Linked DNA regions of Homo sapiens: regions 1, 2 and 4 are each linked to region 3. The links come from fine-mapping of genetic effects on gene expression. A gene starts in region 3. Each other region holds a variant in brackets. All regions are shown on one strand. Distances are from middle to middle. Region 1 overlaps RELT (RELT TNF receptor). Region 2 overlaps RELT (RELT TNF receptor). Region 3 holds the start of FAM168A (family with sequence similarity 168 member A). Region 4 overlaps FAM168A (family with sequence similarity 168 member A).

Region 1 (5,147 bases), 210 kb after region 3:
AGGCCAGGCAGGATTCCGCTGGCAGCCCCCAAGTGGAGCTGGGGCTGGGCTCGTGCCCCCGTCCTTCCCACCTGGACCCCAGCTGGGCCTCACCACTGCCTCCACCTCCAGGGCCGGGCCCGACCTCCTTGTGCGCCGTGCAGTGGTAGCCCTTCCGCTTGAGGAGGTTGCACACCAGGATGCCCAACAGCCCCATGAGGCAGAAGACAGGGACGATGGCGATGACCGCGTACTGGGCGGCTGTCTCCTCTGGGCCACCTGCCCGGGTGCCGTTCCCAGGCTGCCGTGTCTCACCACCGCTGCTGGCCCCTGCTGCCACCTCCACGCCACGTCGGGCCCGCCGCCCCCACTCTGAGCATCACAGACGATGGAGGCAGGACAAAAGCAGAGTGACACAAACACAGAGAGACAGGGGCCCAGGGCCCGAGTCAGTGGGGGCTGCAGGAGAGCCAATGTGCCCAGGGGAGCCCACTCCCCGCCATGCTGGGGATGCAAAGGTCAACCCACTGCCCTCCTGTTTTCCCTTCTGGCCATCGAAGCATTGTCCTGAACAAGGCCTCCTCAGGACGGCCAGACACCCAGCCCCACCCTCCCCTCACGCTGGGGTCAGGGGGTGAAGAGATGGCACACAGGACACATGTCTGGGCACAGGGACGTGGGATCTGCCTCCCTGTGGCCTGGCCATGAATCTAGTGCCTCAGGGGGTGACTGACTCAGTGGCGGGAGGAGGTGCGTGTGGGTATGTGAGTGTTTGCATGCGCACACTCATCTGCATGGGTTTTTTTAGGCAGGGTCTCACTTGTTGCCCAGGCTGGAGTGCAGTGGGGCGATCACAGCTCACTGCAGCATGAAAATCATGGACTCAAGCAATCCTCCCGCCTCAGCCTCCCGAGTAGCACCACCACGCCCGGCTAATTTTTTATTTTTATTTTTTGCAGACAGGGTCTTGCTATGTTGCCCAAGCTGGTCTCAAAGTGATCCTCCTGCCTTGGCCTCCCAAAGTGCTGAGATTACAGGCATGAGCCACTGCACTTGGCTGGCATGAATCTCTTTGAAGGGATGGGGACAGGGGACAGGTCAGTATGTGAGTCCCCAGCCCCCAGCTGTGGCTGCCATCTGCAGGACACTCTCTGCCACTCGGAAGCATGGTGGGCAGAAACAGCCAGGGGAGCGGCTGACTGTGCCCTGCTGGAGACCCTTTGGCTGCACGCCCTGCCCTGGGCTGGAAGAAGGACCCCACTGCCCCCACATGAACACTGCAGAGGCTGCTGGGCTCCAACTCACTGGCCCCTCCCGCACATACCCCTGCACCAGTCCTAGCCCCAGTCTGCCACTCACCATCACAGCCATGAGTACCCAGAGGTGCCCAGGAACATGGTTGACATGGAACGCGGGGAACCCCCCAAGGCCCAAACCACCTGCGAGGAGGGAAGATACCACTGAGGCCCAGAAGTTTCCCCAAACACTATCCTTAGGAGAGGCTGGATTCCTTCCTACCAGGCACCCTCCGTGGTCCTGCCCCATCCCATTTCACAGATGGGAAGAATGAGGCCTGCTCAGGGTACAATAAGGCTGGGGCCCCAGGATCCAGAGTCCTGGTCACCCAGCCAGGAGCCCTCCCCGCACTCCCTTTGGCTTACCCAGGCCAGCAGTCTCCACAGAGTGTATCTCGAGTTGCCATGCCCACCTGGGCCTCCAGCCTCCTCCAAAGGCTGCAACGGGCATGGGGCTGGCATGGGCTGGAGCCCCATGCAGCTGAGAAGGTGCCTGGGGGGCAGGGCCTGCATAATGTGCCCTGCCCTGGGTCCTGTGGGAGGTAAAGGGTGAGAGCATGGCCAGGAGCCAAGCCTGAGGACCCTTGGGGGCCAGGCACAGGACTCTGCCCCTGGCCCTCAGGGCCCTCCCAGGACAGGCAGGAGAGCAGGGCAATGCTCACCAGGTCGGGCTCCTCCCCAGGTGGGCACTGCCAAAGGGTTGTTGATGTCAGGGTGGCGAGAGGCCAGGGCAGCAGCTAGAAGAACAGTAGGCATTGAAAGAGGCAGAAAGTGCTGGGTGTGGGGTCTCTGGGGTCATCTATCCCCCACCTATTTCCTGAAACCCCAGTGGTAGGGACCACTGACTACCCCACCCGGGCTTCAGGGACACACTCTTCTAACCTCAATCCCTCACACTGAGGAAAACCTGTCCTGTCCCAGACCTGCTGCAAGACCAGTACCTGGGCAAGGAGAGAGCCACATCTGGCTCTGGAAAGTGCTGGAAAGCCCCAGATAAGGCCACATCAGGATCTCAAGCCCTTCCAGCTAACCAGAACGATGAGGAGGAAATGCTTCCGAATCCTCTCTCGTATTCTGCCCCCACTTCCTCCTACTTTGGGTCCATCCCTGGCCCCATCACAGCTGGGCATATCATTAACCAGCCTCATTTATAATCCCTGGAGCCAAGTCTGCAGGTGGCGCTTCCTATTCTGGGCTCTCCCTTCAGCGAAAGTCTCCAGGACCACATCCTCCTCTGCAATCTTCCCTCAAGGCGAGGCTACCCCATTCACACCCACACACCCAAACAGGGAGACGCATCCCAAAAGAAAGCTCCATCTTCTCAGTGTGTGTCCCCAGCCCATTTCACTAGGAGTTCTCTCTGCTTCCCATTCTTAGGAATGAACTGTCTCTCCTGAATCCCTCCTAGAGTCCCCCAATTTGGCCTAGGCTGGATGAGGCTACCATCAGCTGCCCTGGAGATGGAATAGGGATCTCCTCAGACCCCAGAGCGGCTCCCAGCACCTGCTAAGGCTGGAAGGCCTCCTGTACATGGAGCAACCCTTAGCAAGGCCCAAGGCCAAGTCTCACCCTCCCTGAGCTTCTAGCGTCACAGCAGAAAGATGGGCCCCAGGGCAGACCCCAAGATGCTGCAAGTCTGTAATGTGGACTTGCCTGCAGCTCCGGGCAGCTGGCCTGATCCTGTGATCCTGGGACCTGGAATCTGGGATCCCCCAGACCAATACAGATCTTGAACCCCAGCACCTGAGGTGCTATGGCTCTCAGGGTCCAAATCCCAGGCCTCTTTTGCCCAGTTTCCTCTTGGTGCCCAGCATACCCTCTGGGCTGGGCTC[C/T]GTTCTCATGCCTGCGTGCCAATGGGCATCTTGCCCTCAGCCATGCCTGCCTTGCCCATAAATGCCAGCAAGCCCTTCATTCTCCATCTCCCTGACAAGCCTGGGTGGGCCCAGAGGTGCTTCCTAGGGTCCAGCTGCCTCAGATTCTTGACGAGCTGAGTAACTGAGCCCTGCCCAGCAGGGGGTTCCCCGGGAGTGTCTGCACCCTCTTGCTGGAGGGCTGCAGGGCTGAGGGTGCGGCTTTTCTCCTTCCCAGGGCCCATCCCCAGCTCACCATAAGGAAGCAGGACAGGGGCCGGCACAGCAGACTTGGCTTCATCCTCAGGCCCCTGGTGGTCGCCGGCCTAGGGCAGATGGAGAGGAGGCTCGGCAGAGCGGCAGGGACAGGCAGGCAGCTGCTGTCCCCTCAGCACCACTTCCAGGATGACAGGACTCATGGGGAGCAGGCAAGGTGCTGCTGGGCAGGCAGAGCCCGGGGAGGCCGGCTCCACACCCGCAAGCACAGGCCCAAGCAGAGGGGGCTGCCCTGCCTGGGAGCCGGCCTCACGGGGCAGCACAGGCAGGAAGGCAGGAAGAAGGCTCTGCAGGCTGGGAGGCTTCCCAGAGGAGGAAGGGCTTCCTTCCCCTTCCTTAAACTGCCAGGTGCCCCGAGGCATCAGCAGGGGAAGGAAGCGCGTGTGGCGGCCTGTGTCCGTGATGACAGGGTTGCAACCAACACCCAACACCCCAGCCCGGCCTCCACACTCCAGCCCAGCGCTCCAGGCTCAGGCTCCCCCCGCCTCCTCCTCACAGGTCTGCAAGCATGCCCGGCCTCTGCCTTCACTCCTGCTGGTTCTGGTCCAAGGAAGGCCTTTTCCTTTACCCTTCAAAGCTCAACACGAAGGCCTCTCTTTCCAGAAGCTTCTCTAGAAGCTTTCCCCAAAGTGGGTCTGGCTCCCACAGCTCCCCACCCCATCTAGGTCCTGGTCCTTCTGCATGGCCACTGTCCACACCTCTTCCAGGGAGGCTGACTCCTCCCTTGAGGCTGGAACATGTCTGGCCACAGCTCTTCCCCTGGCAGACCTATGGGGCTGGGGTGGTCACGGCAGCCAGTGCTCTGTCTTTGTCATCTCTCCAGCACCTACTGCGTGCGGGCACTGGAGAAATCGGTATGAACAAGACAGACAAGGTCCCTGTCTGCAGGGAGCTCCATCCCAGGGGAGACCCAACTGCAAACAGAGAGGTGCCCCTGCCATTTGGTGGTAAGTGCCAAGAAACGAAATAAAGCAGAGTGGGAGTGCAGTGTGTGATACTTCAGAGAAATATCCATGGTGGCGTCACGGCCCACCGGTCTGAGACTGAGGCCCCCAGGCCCAGACGGTGGCCTGCTCTGGAGAAGCCTCCGGCCAGTGGACGAGGCGGACACAGCAGGACAAAGGATTCACATCAGACAGCAGAAGGGACAGGTGGCAGAGCAAGGAAGTCCGCTGTGTACTTCCTGGAGGCCTGGCTTCAGGGGCACGAGGCTGAGGAAAGCCGTGCTCTTCAGGCCACACGCAGCCTCTTAAGCCCAGGGGCAGCCTGGGAACCCAGCCACTGGCTCAGGGCCGCCGCGGCTGAGGCCCCCGCTGTGACTCCAAGGCCGGTGAGGTGAGAAAAGCGCCTCCTGTGGTAGTCCCAAATCACTCAGAGTCCTCTCCCTGCAGGCAGCCCGGCCCTCCCACCTAGAATAGCAGCCCAGGAAACCGATCTGTCCACCCGCCCTCCCTCTTGGCAGATCTCAGAGGGGCCCAGGGTTTGAGTTACACTCAGGGGAGGGAGTGGGCAGCAGTTACATCATCTCAGGACTCTCCAGGTCACTGGCAGCCACTCTGGGTCCCAGGCCAGCTCAGGGGAAAGCCAGGGACAGGAGAAGGTAGGGCCACAGTATAGGGTGGAGGCCACACCTGGCAGTCAACACCCAACAGATGGCACCCCCAGGCTATTTGGGGAGGGTCCCCTGTCACTCCTTAAATTTGGTCACAAGTCTTCCTTCCAGTTTCTGCCCCAAAGTGTCCTGTGC
Region 2 (5,147 bases), 220 kb after region 3:
GTCCCTCAAGGGCTGGGGAGCACCTCGAGGCCAGGCAGCAGCTGCTCCCCAGCCCACTCTCAGCAACACCCCCAGAAGTTGGGCATGGTTCTGCACCTCAGACCTCCTGGCTGCCACCAGGCCTGGGTTTCAGTGGCTCAGGTGGATGGGGTGGGGCTGAGGCTAAGGGGGCTAAATTGGCCCCTTGAGGCCAAGAAAAGGGCTGAGGTGGCCACACCTGGCCCACCCAGCTCCTCCCAGTCTGGGTATGGTACAGGTGCAATCCTTGCCCCACTTCCTGGGCCGAGTCTGGGGCTAGAGGAGGGATGTCTGAGACCAGACAGTTATCTCGGGCAGAGAGGAGGCTCCCTAACCCTCCTCACTGAGCACTACTGCCTGTCCCCTTCCCACTCTAAGCTGGGTCTCACTGAACCCCTCAAAGACAGTGTTCCATGCTTCACACAGAAAAAACTGAGGCTCAGAGAGGTCAAGTGGTAGCCTGTAACAACTTCACCTTGAAGGAGATGAAGTTTACCTACCCTGGAGTAGGGGCAACTGGCAGGCGACCCCTGCCTGAGCCACCCAGGCCTGGTATCTCCACTGCTTCTGGCCACCGTCAACCTCTCAGCACCACAGACAGCCCTGTGTTGCCAACCCTGGCCCTGAGACAGGACAGCAACGGGTCTGGGGGTGCTGAAGGACACCTCACTGCAGCCCCGGCTCATGCTCTGCTACCTCCTCCAAGAAGCCACCTTTGCCACCTGCCCCGGCCATAAAACTGATCCCAAGTCCCTAATGTGCTCAGCATGGGCCCTGCCCCCAATCACCCTGACCTGGAAGACCTGGGCAGAGGCTTTGGGAGGGACTTGGGGGAGACCACAGCCCTGGTCTGCCCCATTCTCCAACTCTCCCCAGACTTGCGGTGCTGGGGAAAGAGGCGCCCCCAGGGCCATCCCAGGTCAGGTCCTACCCAGTGGAGCTACGCTGAGGACTGGGGTCAGTGCAAGTGCAGTGGTGGAGCAGGGAGGAGACAAGGTTGGGCCCTGGAGCAACCCACCAGGGTTCAGACTCTGGCTCTGTCACTTCGCAGATCGATGGCCTTGGGCAGGTTACTTACCCTCCCTGAGTTTCGGGGTCTTCCTCTGCAAACAGGGGTGCTAGTCCCTGCCTCATGGGATACTGAGGGCTCTCAACACAGCTCCACGAGGGCCAGAGGAACCCAAGCTCAGGACCAAGCAACAGCCAGCCGAGGTCACCCAGAGGCTTGGGTGTGGCAAGAGTGCTTTGGGGAACTCCACGTAAACCCTGGCAGCACAAGTAGAGGGGCCTCGGCCTCTCTGGGAGGGCCCTGGGTGCCCATGTCCCAGCCCCTGTACAGGCCTACGTCCACCTGCTCCCACACCAGCCAGGGCCATGGTCAGGAATGTAAGGGGTAGTTCAGCAGTCAGGAACCCAGCCCCAACTTCCCAAGCCTGTTTCCCAATTACACCAGTGCAGCTGACCTCATGGTGTGGTGGAGGACTCAGCGTTCACAGGCAACAGGGGCTCTTCTTACAATCAGGCCTTGGGCCAGGCATCCCCTCCTGTAGGAAGCCTCCCCAGCCTCCCTGTCAAGAGGGCCCCCTCTCCTCTCCAGACTCCCCCACCCCTCACCCCTGCCATCAGTTTTCAGTCTCCCTTGATTCCTCGAGAAGGGGTGAGGCTCCTTGAGGGAGGGAGGGAAAGGGTCTGTGCAGGAGGCCAGGCATGCAGCAGGCTGGTGGTGTGGGTGGCCAAGGTCCTCCCCTCTCACTGCTCCTCCTCACAGTGCATGCACTGGGCTAAGCGCAGGTCCCCCCTCTGGAAGCCCCCACTCCTCTCTCTACCTGCACACTCAGACCCTGACTCTAACTGGCTGTAGAGGTCCCGCTGTCCCCCTCTGTCTGTGACAACTAGCCAGGGCACTTGCTCACAGCCACATGGGCAGCTTATTTATAGAGCTCTCATCTTTCCCAGAGTGGCCTAGGAAAGAACTCTGGTCTTCAAGGCCAGCAGACCTGGGTTTGGATCCCAGTGACACTGGGGCCTGGCAAGTGCCTCCTCTCTCTAGGCCTTGGTTTCCCTGCCTGTGCTTGGAGGGAATGATGACCCCCAGGAGTATAAGGCTGAGGATGTGACAGCCTCCCGGGCCATAATCCCACGGATGGGCAGAGTAGGGATGCAGCATTGGCTCTTGTCCTCTCTGCCACTCCAGCCCCACTCAGCAGCACCAAGCCTAGGCCCAGAAAGACACGGGTTCAGCACACAGTGGGTATTCTC[C/T]CTGTCCAGAGACCACATCCCTGCTCCCCCATCGATCCTGAGTGGGGAATGGCGCCAAACACACCCTGCTGAGTAACCTCAGGCAAAACCCCTTCCTCTCTGGTCCTCTCTCCTGCTGACCTGGCAGAAGGGCTGGCCCCATAACAGAAGTAGTCAGGTCCCGCCCAGCCAGACTGGGTGCTGACCAGCCTGGCCCTTCTTGAGAAACTAATGTTAGAATTGTCAGACAAACCCCTCGACCCTCACCTCCTGCCTGGAGACCAGGCTGGGGGCTGGGTAGGATCTGGAGTACCTGACTACAACACAAGTGGCTGCGTGACTCAGCCTAGGGCTGCTCTCTGAGTCGAGGTTCCCCCATACCAACTTGGAAAGGAGAGGGCCCGGGTGAGTGCTGTTGTGAGGAAATGCTGGGCCCAGAGCCTGGCACACTACAGGGCCTGAGCAGGGACAGTTGCCTCTACTGGCTCAAGATGTCGAGGACCATGACAAGCACTACACTTGCCCCCTACCCACAGGAGTGGCCGTGAGTCTTTGCCCCCACCCGCCAGCACACATTCTGCCTCAGGTCATGGTGAGCACCAGAGACCTGGGTGCAAATCTCCCGGTGCCTCCCAGCACACAGGTGCTGGGATCCTAGAGCAGCTGCCCTTCCTCAGGAAGAGGTCTCGTCAGCACAGAGACGGCAGTGGGAGGGGGTGGGCTACTGGCCACGCTGGCCCCACCAAGCTGAGCATGCGGTACCCACAGGTGCCCCAAACCTGTGCCCATTCCCCAGCAGTGAGGGAGGACACCTGGCAGGTGGCCCACAACAATGAAGGGAGACTAATTTCGGGCCAGGAGGGCTTCCTGGGTGAGGTGGAGCTGGGGCTATAGTCTGGATGGCCAAGAGGGTTCTAGAAAGAGGGAAGCTTTAAAAGCAAAGGCAAGGCAGACAAGGCATCTGGCAAGGAGAGGCGAGGGTAAAGATGCAAATTCTGAAAGGCCTTGGAAGGAAAGGCCTCATTGCCAGGTGAGGAGTTTGAACTACACTTTGTAGGCGAAAAGCAAGTTATTTTATGGAGGTCACTCTGGCAGTGTGCGGGAGAGCCGACGTGGAAGCACAGAAGCTAGAACCAGAGCCTGGGCAGGGATGGCAAGGCCAGAGCTGGAATATGAGGCAGGCCGACGTCCAGAAGGTGTGTCTTGGGCCTGCTTCCAGTGCTGGCCAACCTCCAGCCGCCAGGGAAAGTGTGGACACAGAATGACAAACTCAGGACAGAAGGCAGGTACCGCGTCTGGAAGGTGAAGGTTCTAGGAGTCCTAGGGTAAGTCCCTGAATTCTCAGAACCTCAATCTCTCCTTCTGTGAAATGAGATTGGGCCTGACCCTATGAGTAGGGGCAGGTGCTGACTGGCCCTCAATATCTCCCCTCCTTGGCTAGACATAGGGCCCTCCCTCCAGCAGCTATCACACCAGTCCCAACTGTGGTCACAAGTGGAAACCCAGCCTGGCCCCACTGTCATCCCCAGAGGCCCAAGTTCCCAGAAAGGTTTGGCTTGGCCAGGGCACAGGCTGAGGCTGGGGGCCTCCTTTAAGGCTGGGATAAGGAGAAGTTAACCCTTCTCCTCTTGCTCCCCCTCCCAGGCCCTAAGCTATTTCCACCTCTTTGTTGAGGATGGAAATAACTCCGGCTCAGCCCCTAGAGACCACGACAGCTATTTTCATCAGCCCCAAGAAGCACAGCTCCAGTCATTGCAGAGAGGACCGAGGGACACCCTGATCCCCAGTTCCAGTTCTTGGCCAAGTGGCAACAGTGGTCAGAGCCAAAAGGGGTCTCTGGGAAGAACAGGGAGACCGAGGCCCAGAGAGAGTAGGGACCAGCTCAAGGTCACTCCCTGTCTGCTCCCCACCATAACATGCAGGTGGATTTGGGGAAATGCCTCTAGAGCAACTGCAAAGGGGAGGGGGCCTCTCAAGTATGATGAAGGTCACCTGGGACTCTCAATTTTCCCTGCTACCCCTAGGCTGTGCTGCTAACTCCATACACTCTTCAAAGCCATGGGGACACCCCCAAAGCCAGGTCCAGGCTCTAGAAGGCAGGGGACAGGACTTTCTGGTGATGTCTGGTTGGGAGTGAAGTCTGGGGAGGAACAGGAAGACCATGTAACCCACCCATCCCCAGTGTTCCAGACATGTGTGCACACACACACATCATACTTAGAACTCACAATGTAATGCCCTGGCTAGGCCACGCCTACTAGCCCAAGTTTGAGAGACAGAAGTCCAGGAAAGCCATGAGCAGTTATTAGGAAGGTGGGTGATCCTCTCTCCCAGCATCTCACTGGTCTCTGGGGTCAGAAGACCTGAATTCCAGTCCTGGCACTGTCCTGACTCTGTATGACCTTGGCCAAGTCACTTTGCTTCTCTGATCCTCAGTTCCTTTCTCTGAAACACAGTCACTACATCTCAGAATCACTGCGAAGATTCAACAAGACAGAACACCATGAAGTGTTCAGAACAGTGCCTGACACTGTCCCCCACCCTGTCCCCCACCCCTAGAATGTAATCAGCATTTTCAGAGGACGACAGCAGAAGACAGAACTTCCAGATTCTACAGCAAGTGCCACCCTCTCCTAGACTAGGGAGCTCAGCTTCCACCCCACCCTGCATGAACCCCACAGACCTTCATACGGGAGAAGGGGCCTCAGAAGGGTCTTGCCCAGATGGCGAAAGGGTACCGCTCCAGCTCTCCAGCAAGAACTTAGCCTCCCAGACCAGAGACCACTCCTGGGGAACAAGTCTCTCCCCACTCTCCCCCAACCCAAGGAACTGAAGAAAGGACACCCAGGCAGAGAAGTGAATGTCTATGGATTTGGGGATCCATATTGTCT
Region 3 (5,147 bases):
TTTTTTAAAGTGCAAGACATATAGCTTTGTGTAGGCAGAGCTGCATAGGCCCTTTACAATAACTCTGTACCTCTCTCTTCACTTCCTCTCCCCACCGTGATCTCTGGCCAACAGATTAGAAACCACTGCTATAAGAATTCAGATAAGCCGGGAGCGGTGGCTCACGCCTGTAATCCCAGCACTTTGGGAGGCCGAGGCAGGCGGATTACCTGAGGTCAGGAGTTCAAGACCAGCCTGGCCAACATGGTGAAACCCCATCTCTACTAAAAATACAAAAAAAAATTAGCCAGGCATGGTGGCACATGCCTGTAATCCCAGCTACTCGGAAGGATGAGGCAGGAGAATTGCTTGAGCCCGGGAGACGGAGGTTGCAGTGAGCCGAGATTGCACCACTGTACTCCAGCCTGGCTGACAGAGCAAGACTCTGTCTCAAACAAACAAACAAACAAACAAACAAACAAAAAAGAATTCAGATATAAGGAAAACCAGTGTGTCTAAAATATGTTCTAGGGAAGGTAGGACTTTGGCTTGAGTTTGAAGAATGAGTAAGAGAAAAGGAGAAAATGGGTGTGGAAAGACCAGAAATGGAAAAATTTTGAGAAGACGCATTGAAAATTGAGAAAATTCTCCCTTCCAACTTTATGAATTGGAAGTGACTACTATTATTTGTTTTAATAGTGGAACTATTAAAACCAGGCAGGCACAGTGCTGAAGCATGAATGAGACAATGGGAAGCCATGGAAAGCATCTAGGCAGCAAAGAAAGGTTGTTAGATTTGGAAATTATGTTTTTTGGAAGTAGCACAGCTTAAAAAATTGTCCAGGTGTAGTGTGGCTCACACCTGTAATCCCAGCACTTTTGAGAGCTGAGGCAGGAGGGTCTCTTGAGGCCAGGAGTTTGAAACCAGCCTGGGCAATATAGTGAGACGACGTCTCTTACAATTAAAACAAAACAAAAAAGAAAACAAAAAACAGTCGTTATGTGCTCCTTTTAAACAATTCAAACAATATGAAAACAAAAATTACAGTCGGGCATTGTGGCTCATGCCTGTAATCCCAGCACTTTGGGAGGCTGAGGCGGGCAGGTCAGGAGGTCAAGAAATCGAGACCATCCTGGCCAATATAGTGAAACCCCATCTCTACTAAAAATACAAAAATTAGCTGGATGTGGTGGCGCGCGCCTGTAGTCCCAGCTACTCAGGAGGCTGAGGCAGGAGAATCGCTTGAACCCGGGAGGCAGAGGTTGCAGTGACCTGCGATCGCCCCCACTTTACTCCAGCCTGGCTATAGATCCAGACTCCGTCTCAAAAAACAAAAAAAACCTACGTGCAATCTGACACCCTTTCCCCCAAGATAATCATTGCTAATATTTTGGCGAACCTCTTTCCTGAAATCTCTCCATGCTTGTAGAATATTGTGTCAAACCTCACATAAATGCACTCGTGTAGACATGCTGTTGTGTAATCAACTTTTTCCCCGAAGAATAAATTGTGAATAGCTTTTCATGTCAATAGATTTATATCATTTTAAATGGCTCCTTAGTATTGCATTGTATGTATATGTCACGTCTTATTTAAGCAGCACCCTATCGATGAACATTTACTCCCTTCATAATTAACTACGTCATATAACAACTTTGTGCATTCATCTTTTCGAAATTGTTCGATCATCTTTTTAAGGTAAATTCTTAAAAGTAATGGAGCTGGGTCAAGAAGAGGATATGCCCTTTGTCGTTTGGATTCAAGTTGCCGAATCGTCCTCAAATTTGCAGGGAGACCAGCGAGGAAGCTCCGGCATTAGTTCTGGTGAGAGACAGCTGAAACGGAGATGGCGAGGGATGAACAGAATCACAGGTGATCTAGCCCATCAAGGCCCATCCTCGGTGGGCTGGCGTATTCCTTCCCTTTTGCCTCTCTTTCACTTCTTTTTCTTAACATGGAGGAAGAACCGAGAACTCCATCTCCCAGCATTTCGCAGGGACCACACTCCCTGGGAACTGTAGTACCGGGTCTGAGAAGGGTCCGGAAGGAGAATAGGAAGCTGAGGGGCATGCTGGGAGGTGTAGTCCAGAGACAGAGACGAGAGGGAGAGGGAGAGAGGGAGAGAGGGAGAGAGGGAGAGACAGAGAGTGTGTGTGTGTGTGTGGGCGGGGGGAGGGGGGTGTCTATGCAAAGAGGATGGAGACGCTGCGAGTACGGCCCCTTGGGGATGGGGCCTCGGGCGACCTGACTTTCCTCACAGGTGGTCTTTGAGTCTACAAAATTCGCCAGCGGATGGTTGGCTTTATTCCACTGTCCGTGACCGGAGAGGGCGCGGCCCCTCTGCACCGGGCTCGCGGCGGGAGGCGCAGGCCGCGCGCGGGCTAAAGCAGGGCATGCCGGGAGTTGTGGTCCCGGCGCTCTGAGGCTGTGGGACGTGTCGCGGCGCCGCGCCGGCTCCTCCTTCCCTGCCCTTCTGAGCGGTCCCCCGCCTCCTCCCTCCGCCTCCTCCTCCCTCGCCCGCAGCCGAGCGTCCCCTCCCCCCACCCGTCGGGCTCCTCGGCGGCTACTGCAGAGGATTCAGAGCCGAGTCGCTGAGGAGGAGGCTCCGGTCCCCGCGCGCCATCCGCCACCCTACTGGACACGGGCGAGAGCGTCGCCGCCGTAGCCTCCGGAGAAGACAAGGGCATCGCCGCCTCAGCCGCCGCCGCCGCCGTTTTCGCCTGCAGCTGCTCACCGGTGAGGAGACTCCCCCCGCCACAGGGTCCGCTGGTCCTGAGTCTGGGCCGGTGGCGCTGGCGAGAATGAGAGGGGAGGCTGCGGAGCCCCCGTGCAGGTTGGGGGGAGGGGGTTGAGGTCGCGATGGAACGGCGGGCTGGCGGGGGAGACTTGTCCAGGCGCTGGCCGGGGGTGGGGTGAGGGTGGGACCCAAGCAGGTTGGGGGGCGGGCGACAAGGGAGGAGGACTTTTGATGGAGAATAACCCAACCTGGGACAGGAGAGTGGGGTGGGGGCGTCGGGTTGGAATTCGGGATGGTCTTGGGGCGAGGTGGAAGATGAGACTAGGGTGGGATGGCTTTTAATGGGGGAGGGGACTGAATGAGGGTGGTGATTTGGGTTTGGCCTGGAGCAGTTGACAGCTTGGGATCTGAGCTGGGGTGAGGGGCAGGGGAATGATTTCAACGGAGAGTGAGTGGCATGTACAGGGTTGGTTAGGGCCCTGCGTAGTGTTAATTCAGAAGGGTGGAATTTGGGGTGGACCTGGGGCAGGATGATGGAGGTGGCAGGAGTTGGGGGTGAGGGGCTTGGCATGGGTTGAGACCCAAGCTTGAAGTGGGTGTTTGTCATCTGGGGCTGGTGGAATTTGTGGAGACTTATGGAATAGCATGGGTTAGGATAGAGCAGAAGAGTGCAATTTGGGGGTTTCCTGGGGTGGGCTGATGGAGGTTGGAATAGGAGTTGGTGGAGGTGGGACATTCAGTGAGGGGAGTGTGATGGTGAGCTGGCAGGAAGGGGCCACATTGGAAGTCAGGCCCGAAATGGGAGGACAGGGATGGAAATGGAGTGTGGGGCACAGTGGGTTGGATTTAGGGTGATCTTACAATCACTGGAAAGGGCATGGTGGCTCCTTGGTTGCAGAGTCAAGGCAGAGGGCACATAAAACATCACTGGGCTGCTTTCATTGAAAGGATAGCGGCAGGGGTGAGCAAAGTTGGGGGATGGTATCTTGAAGAAAATATCCCTTGGCCAAGGTGGCAGAGGGAGTTTTGGAGAAGGACTTTCGGAGATGAGCTGGTAGGCCTGGGGAGGTGGTTGCTGATGGTGAGGTGGCACAGGGGAAATTTAAGGAATGGGAGACCTGGAGCTGTTGGTATGGATGGGGCAGAGAGGATGGAGAGGGACAGTGAGCTGTGCTGGAGAGCAGGGGGGAATTGGGTTGGATTATTTTGGTGGTGAAGGATTGGGGTGGCCTCCAAGAGACACATGAGGGTTAAGGGTTGGAATACTTAAATGAACAGCCTTGGTGGCTGTGGTTGGGTGAGAGGCAGTAAGGCTGTTAGAGGGGACTTTGCAGGGGACACGGAAGAGACCTTCTCATTCTTAGGGGCCATTTTAATCTGTTCGGGTGATGTTTTTGTTTGTTTTATTTATATTAGTAAAATTTGGAAGTCAAGTCAGCCCAAAGGGTAAAGTTGAAAGGGGATTTAGTTAAGGTAGAATTAAGGAGGGGAGGGTGTCTTCTGTTATTTGTATATCATAAAAAGTAAGTTGGGGGAAAAAAGCATACTTCCAAACTAAAGGTGGGAGAAGATAAACTGGAATGTAATGGATATCTTTCTATATGATGTCTCTGCCTTTTCTTTTCCCCTCTCCTCCTGGTGTATTTAAAAACTAGCCAGGCATTTTGAAATTTAAATAGATTTGATGAGCTTGAGATTGTTAAGGGTGCATTCCTTGCTTGAGAACTAATGAGTGAGCCTGAAAAATATGAGACTGAATTTATTTTGTAGGTAGGTAACAAGCACATAGGCAAAAAGAGCTTGGGCCTTTTTTACCCCCTCTTTAAATTGATTGCTTGAAGACGCCATTTGTTAGTGTCCTGGTTTGCAAGGCAATTAGGCCCATCATTGTATTGCAGGCTAATAATCCTGAGATGAGTCTTGGCACCACCGCTTTATGTAAACAGAGAAGACAGGAAATATGGAAATGTCATAAATATTCATTGGTGAGATGGTTTGGTACTGATGGAGTTTTTCATATGATTGTCTTTTGACATTGATAAGATTTAGAATAATTGGACTGTATTTCTAAAGATTGAATTTTCTTCCAAAGGAATTCAGGTGATCAGAATTCTGTCAGATGTGAATAAATAAAGCATATTGAGTCATTTTTATTTTATTTTTTGGGGAATGATGTTGATGTAGTCGCATTGTATTAACTACAGAAACAGCATCTCCACCTATTCATCAGAAATTCGATTTAAACCTTAGCGATATGCTCATTCTTAGGGCAGAACGATGATAATGGAAGGTACACAGGAGTGCAAATGGAGGGAACATCTTTAGAGAAACAGTTCTATGGACCTAATTGCATTAACTGTGATAATATGTTAAACATAAAGTGGCTGTTGATTAGAGCTCAGACTGAAAAAAAATGAGGAGGGATGTAAA
Region 4 (5,147 bases), 110 kb after region 3:
TCTAGTTCCAGAACTTCCCTATTTATAAATGCGGGGGCTGAAAACTTGAAGAGGGTGGGCTTTGAAGAATAGAGTTCCCTGGCTGCTCTGAAGCAACACAGTTCCTCCACCAGAGACCCTTTTTATTAAACTTAGGTAGTAGTAGCTACTGACTTTGCTGCTGACTTGCACATTGGGCCTGGTTTGACTCCAAACCTTCAGCAGGGCATCTGGACAAAGTAGGAGACTCATTATACCATCTTCAGGTTGATTGATTACATTCTGTATACCTATGGTTTTTTCCTAAAGGGAATGAATTTTTAAAATACACGTAATAAAATAGGACGAAAAACAAACAGATTATCAGTGAAGGGGAAATAGGATAATATAGTAAATTTAGTAAAAAAGCTGGGGTAAATTTAGTACTAGAAGTTTTTGCTCATTGCTAAGAACGCTCAGCTTTCCGGTGACCAGACCAAGGCCTGGTCCAAGGTTCAGATTGTCTATCATTCATTCACGTATTCTTTCAGCTGATAGTTTATTCCTATTAAGTGTTTGAATATTCAAAAGACACGTGTATCTCTGGTTCTAATGTCTGAAGGAAGTAGAACTCATTATAAACAATAGGTGACATTAGTGGATGCCACAATAAACCTGATGGCAGGGTCTGTGTGTGATTTGTTTCTCCTAGATCCAGTACCAGTGATTAGCTCAGATCTAGTACTTAGGGATTTGCTGAATGAATTAGTAAGAAATTACTACTTTTTAGGATCTCATGTAAAAACTTGGTCAATGGAATGACTTTAAAACAGTCCTTTAGATGTGTTATGTATATTTAACAACATGATGGTTGTTAAAATAAAAGTGATGGTTAATACTGAGTGTCAACTTGATTGGATTGAAGGATGCAAAGTATTGATCTTGGGTATGTCTGTGAAGATGTTGCCAAAGGAGATTAATATTTTAGTCAGTGGGCTGGGGAAGGCAGACCCACCCTTAATCTGGGTGGGCACCATCTAATCAGCTACCGTTGAATATAAAGCAGGCAGAAAAATGTGAAAAGGCCAGACTGACTTACCCCGGCTACATCTTTCTCCCTTGCTGGATGCTTCCTGTCCTTGAACATCGGACTCCAGGTTCTTCAGCTTGGGACTTGGACTGGCTTCCTTGCTCCTCAGCTTGCAGATGGCCTATTGTAGGATCTTAGGATCCTGTAGGTTAATACTACTTAATAAATTCCTATATATCTATATATCTATATATCGATATATATCTATATATATATCTATATATATCTATATCTATATATCTATAGCGATACATATCTATATCTATCTATATATAGATAGATAGATATCGATATAGATATCTATATATAGATATATATCGATATAGATATCGATATATAGATAGATATCGATATATAGATATATAGATATATAGATATAGATAGATATATAGATATATAGATATATATATCTATATATATCTCTCTCTCCTCTTAGTTCTGCCCCTCTAGAGAACCCAGAATAATACAATCATCAAATACTGAATACCTGTAGTGTGTAGTTGGTCCTGTGCTGTACCCTGGGGAAGAAAAGGATATGAATAAATTATGGTTATTTAAGAAAACCTGATGATACAGAGTACTATGTGATATAAAATTTGTAAGGACTATGAAAGCTCAGAGGAGAGTGTTCCTCATAGGCTGGGCTATTCAGCTTATACATCCTTAAAACGGGGATAATAAATAAAGTTACTGTGAAAATTAAAGATGTTAACATTAAACATCTGTTAAAATTAAAGATGTTAACAGTTATGGTATATAACGTACTCTGTATCCTCAGCGCTGATGCTGGAAGTGGCATAAGATAAAGACCCAGTAAAGGTTTATTGACTGAAGATAAGGAGGGAGGAAGGAAGCAGCAAGAAAGTACATTGGGAACCAAGCAGGCTTGCTTCTTTAACGACTGAGAAGGTTCAAAAGACATTCTTTCTGAGAGCCCTGTTTGGCTCTGAATTATTACATCTGACAATATTCTCTTGTGCTATTATACTTCCCCCATACAATCTTCATTCCTTACTGCCTTTATACTCTTGCTGGACTCTTCTGCTAACCTCTAAGCTAATAAAAATAATGGTTGGTGGGTAATTAGTTCACAGCAACCATCATCTCCCAAATCAGTATTTCCAGATTCCCAGTTGTCTGTTGGACATCTTTGTCTCTACTTCTTCCAAATGAACACCATCTTTGAATGCTTACCTCAGAAACCTCTGACTTTCCCCTCTTCAAGCCCTGCATACAGAGAATTTTCAAATTCTGTCAGTTCCGACTGCAAAATATTTTCCTATATTCTTTCCTTCTTTTCCGTTTTAGCTTTCCTTTCTAGTTCAGA[T/C]CTTCATTTCCTTAACCTGGATAGCTGCTTTAAGACTTTCTGTTTCTCCTTTGCTAACCCATCCTTCATCTTCCCATGAAATATTATTCTAGAACACAGATATGATTATATTACTTTGTTACTTTTATCCTCCATAGCATCTTCATAGCAATTCTTTATATTAAGTGGTAGTATTTCTGTTTTATAGAGGAGGTAATTGTCTTCCTGTGGCAGATAGCCTCAAGGTGAAATGAACACTTTCCTTACTCGTTTTAGGCTCAGTAATTACCCTTCTAAAGCCCTAGACCTGGGAAAGGGACAGTCCAGTGCCTTGGGTCCCTATGGACACTGTAGGTCTTGGTTGTTGACAGTTGCATGTGATGAGGATGTTCCTCTAGGCAAAATAATGATAAAAACCACAATTTATCGTGTTTACATGTGCTCAGGCAGAACATATATTATTTCATTTAATTTTTCCAACATTCTTGGAATATTGATACCACTAGTATTTCCCACTACACAGAAGAAGAAACTGAGATTAAGTTATCCAAGGCCTCACAGCTGTTAACTGTGGCTTAAAAACCTGTTCTTGGCTGGGTGCGCCAAATAATTCCAGCACTTTGGGAGGCTGAGGTGGGCAGATCACCTGAGGACAGGAGTTGGAGACCAGCCTGGCCAACATGGTGAAACCTCGTCTCTACTAAAAATACAAAAAATTAGCCGGGCGTGGTGGCTCACGCCTTTAATCCCAGCTACTTGGGAGGCTGAGGTAGGAGAATCGCTTGAACCCAGGAGGTGGAGGTTGCAGTGAGCTGAAATTGCGCCATTGCATTCCAGCCCGGGTGACAGAGCGAGACTCTGTCTCAAAAGAAAAAAACAAAACAACACAAAAAAAACTTGTTCTTAACCATTATATGAAATTTCTAGGTGACATTTCACACATATTGCTTCCTCAGGGAAGGTGATTATTTTGCATGCTATAAACGTGCTGTTGAGAATTTATAATCTAGTGGGCCTCATAGGTTTGCTTCAAAAAACTAATATATTCTGGTAGAACCCCTTGACTCTGTGGGTTCTTCAACAAACACCTGTATTTCTTCACATTCCCTCAGTATCCTATGTCTCATGACAGATAGATCTAAAATACCCAGGAAGACTTATGACCAGCAAAAGGTGGGGAGGGGCTTTCCTGGAAGTATGCTTTCACATAGTTTATATATTTATTTGTCGGTCTTTCTATCCAGTTGTTCATCTGTCCATCCAGAGAAGAGTATCAAGATGATTTATGGTAGAAAGCCTCCAATCTAAAGTCAGGAGGCTTGGGTTTTGCTCAGAGCCCTGTCCACAACCATGACTTTCTGTGCATTTCTAGGGTAGTCCCTTCCCTTCTCTATGCCTCAGTATTCTCCCCCTTTAAAAAAAAAAAAAAAAAAAAAAAAAGGCTGTTGGATGTTGTCTTTGTGTATTTTGTGCTGCTGTAACAAAACACCTGAGACTGGGTAATTTATAAAGAACAGAAATTTATTTCTTACAATTCTAGAGGCTGGGAGGTCCAAGATCAAGGCAAGTTCATTGTCTGGTAAGAGTTCCATCTCTGTTTCTAAGACAGCACCTTGAATGCTGTGTCCTCCAGAGGAGAGGAGGAATGCTGTGTCCTCACATGGCTCTAGGTGGAAAGGCTATGAAAGGATGAACTTCCTCCATCAAACCCTTTTATAAGGATGTTAATCCATTCATGACGGCAGAGCCTTTATGACCTGAAGACCTCCCAGAAGGCTCTATCTCCCAACACTGTTGCATTTGGGATTAAGTTTCCAACACATAAATTTTGGGAGACATATTTAGACCATAGCAGATGCCATGCCACAGACCTCTTCCAGCTAGCTCTCTCTAACTACATGTGATAGGTAATATGGCAGTTTGTACTTTTGAAGAGGAGCCCCAATATTTTTATACTATATCACAGGCCTTTATTGGACTAAGGAGATAAAAATTTAGCTTATATATTTGCATTGCAAATGTAACCTCTTGTAAGTAACCGTTAAAGAGAGACTCTGAGGATTGCTGATTTATTGTCTCTCTAGAAATCCCTGATCACAATTTTTAATATGTGGGGGTGTTATAGAAAGTCTGTCTGCAGCAATCCATTTCTAGCAAATTATAATTCTGCTTCAGAGATATGTGATAATTTAAAGCCATTGTGTGATGTGGTTGTGAAACCCTGGTACTCTGTGCCTGACTGTGCTAGGTATTAGGGATGAAAGTCTGATCAAGACAAAACTGCTCTCATGGGGTTTACAGTCAGGGATGGGATACAATTATAGTGTGATAAATGTTACAGAAACATCCCAGAGAAAGTTGCACATAACTGAACCCTAAAAAGAAGAGTAAGAATTATCCAGAAGCTGTGCATGGTGGCACGTGCCTGTAGTCCCAGCTACGTGGGAGGCTGAGGCAGGAGGATCACTTGAGCCTAGGAGTTTGAGTCCAACCTGGGCAATATAGTGATACTCTGCATCTTCAAAGAAGAAGAAGAATTATCCAGACTGAGGGATAGAGGGAAGGAGCTAGGAAAGATGAGTGAGAGAAACCAGAAATGATGGAGAACGATGGTATTAAAAACAAAACAGCATGTGTAAAGACTCAGAGACAAGAGAGTATGGCATGTTCAAGGGAACTCAAAATATCAAGTCTGCTGTATTGTAGAGTGTGAAGGCAGAAAAATGCTATTTCAAAATTACATCCGTTTTAGATAATACATCTGGATTGTGAAACAGCATGATATCATAGAAA

What was found. PIP is the estimated chance that this variant, and not a neighbour inherited with it, causes the effect.
Region 1: its variant is fine-mapped to the expression of FAM168A in whole blood (INTERVAL, PIP above 0.99).
Region 2: its variant is fine-mapped to the expression of FAM168A in whole blood (TOPMed, PIP above 0.99).
Region 4: its variant is fine-mapped to the expression of FAM168A in whole blood (INTERVAL, PIP 0.98).

What each region holds. Positions count from the first base shown.
Region 1 is chr11:73,387,415-73,392,561 of GRCh38, reverse strand. RELT (RELT TNF receptor) reads right to left here. Exons shown (of 11, transcript NM_152222.2): 2 at 3,381-3,450; 3 at 1,937-2,011; 4 at 1,641-1,807; 5 at 1,339-1,418; 6 at 94-351. The coding sequence starts at 3,425. Among named protein-coding and RNA genes, the nearest start is that of RELT, 14 kb to the right of the region's middle. RefSeq lists enhancers at 3,598-3,707, 3,543-4,490, 4,412-4,571, 4,491-5,147. The variant C/T (reference allele first, on the strand shown) is at 3,107.
Region 2 is chr11:73,377,999-73,383,145 of GRCh38, reverse strand. The region is part of intron 1 of RELT (RELT TNF receptor); the gene reads right to left. Among named protein-coding and RNA genes, the nearest start is that of RELT, 4.2 kb to the right of the region's middle. RefSeq lists an enhancer at 3,602-3,681. The variant C/T (reference allele first, on the strand shown) is at 2,278.
Region 3 is chr11:73,595,492-73,600,638 of GRCh38, reverse strand. It overlaps FAM168A (family with sequence similarity 168 member A), which reads left to right and starts at 2,527. Exons shown (of 8, transcript NM_015159.3): 1 at 2,527-2,716. RefSeq lists silencers at 2,084-2,313, 2,444-2,573 and an enhancer at 2,465-3,193.
Region 4 is chr11:73,480,829-73,485,975 of GRCh38, reverse strand. The region is part of intron 1 of FAM168A (family with sequence similarity 168 member A); the gene reads left to right. Among named protein-coding and RNA genes, the nearest start is that of RELT, 110 kb to the right of the region's middle. The variant T/C (reference allele first, on the strand shown) is at 2,376.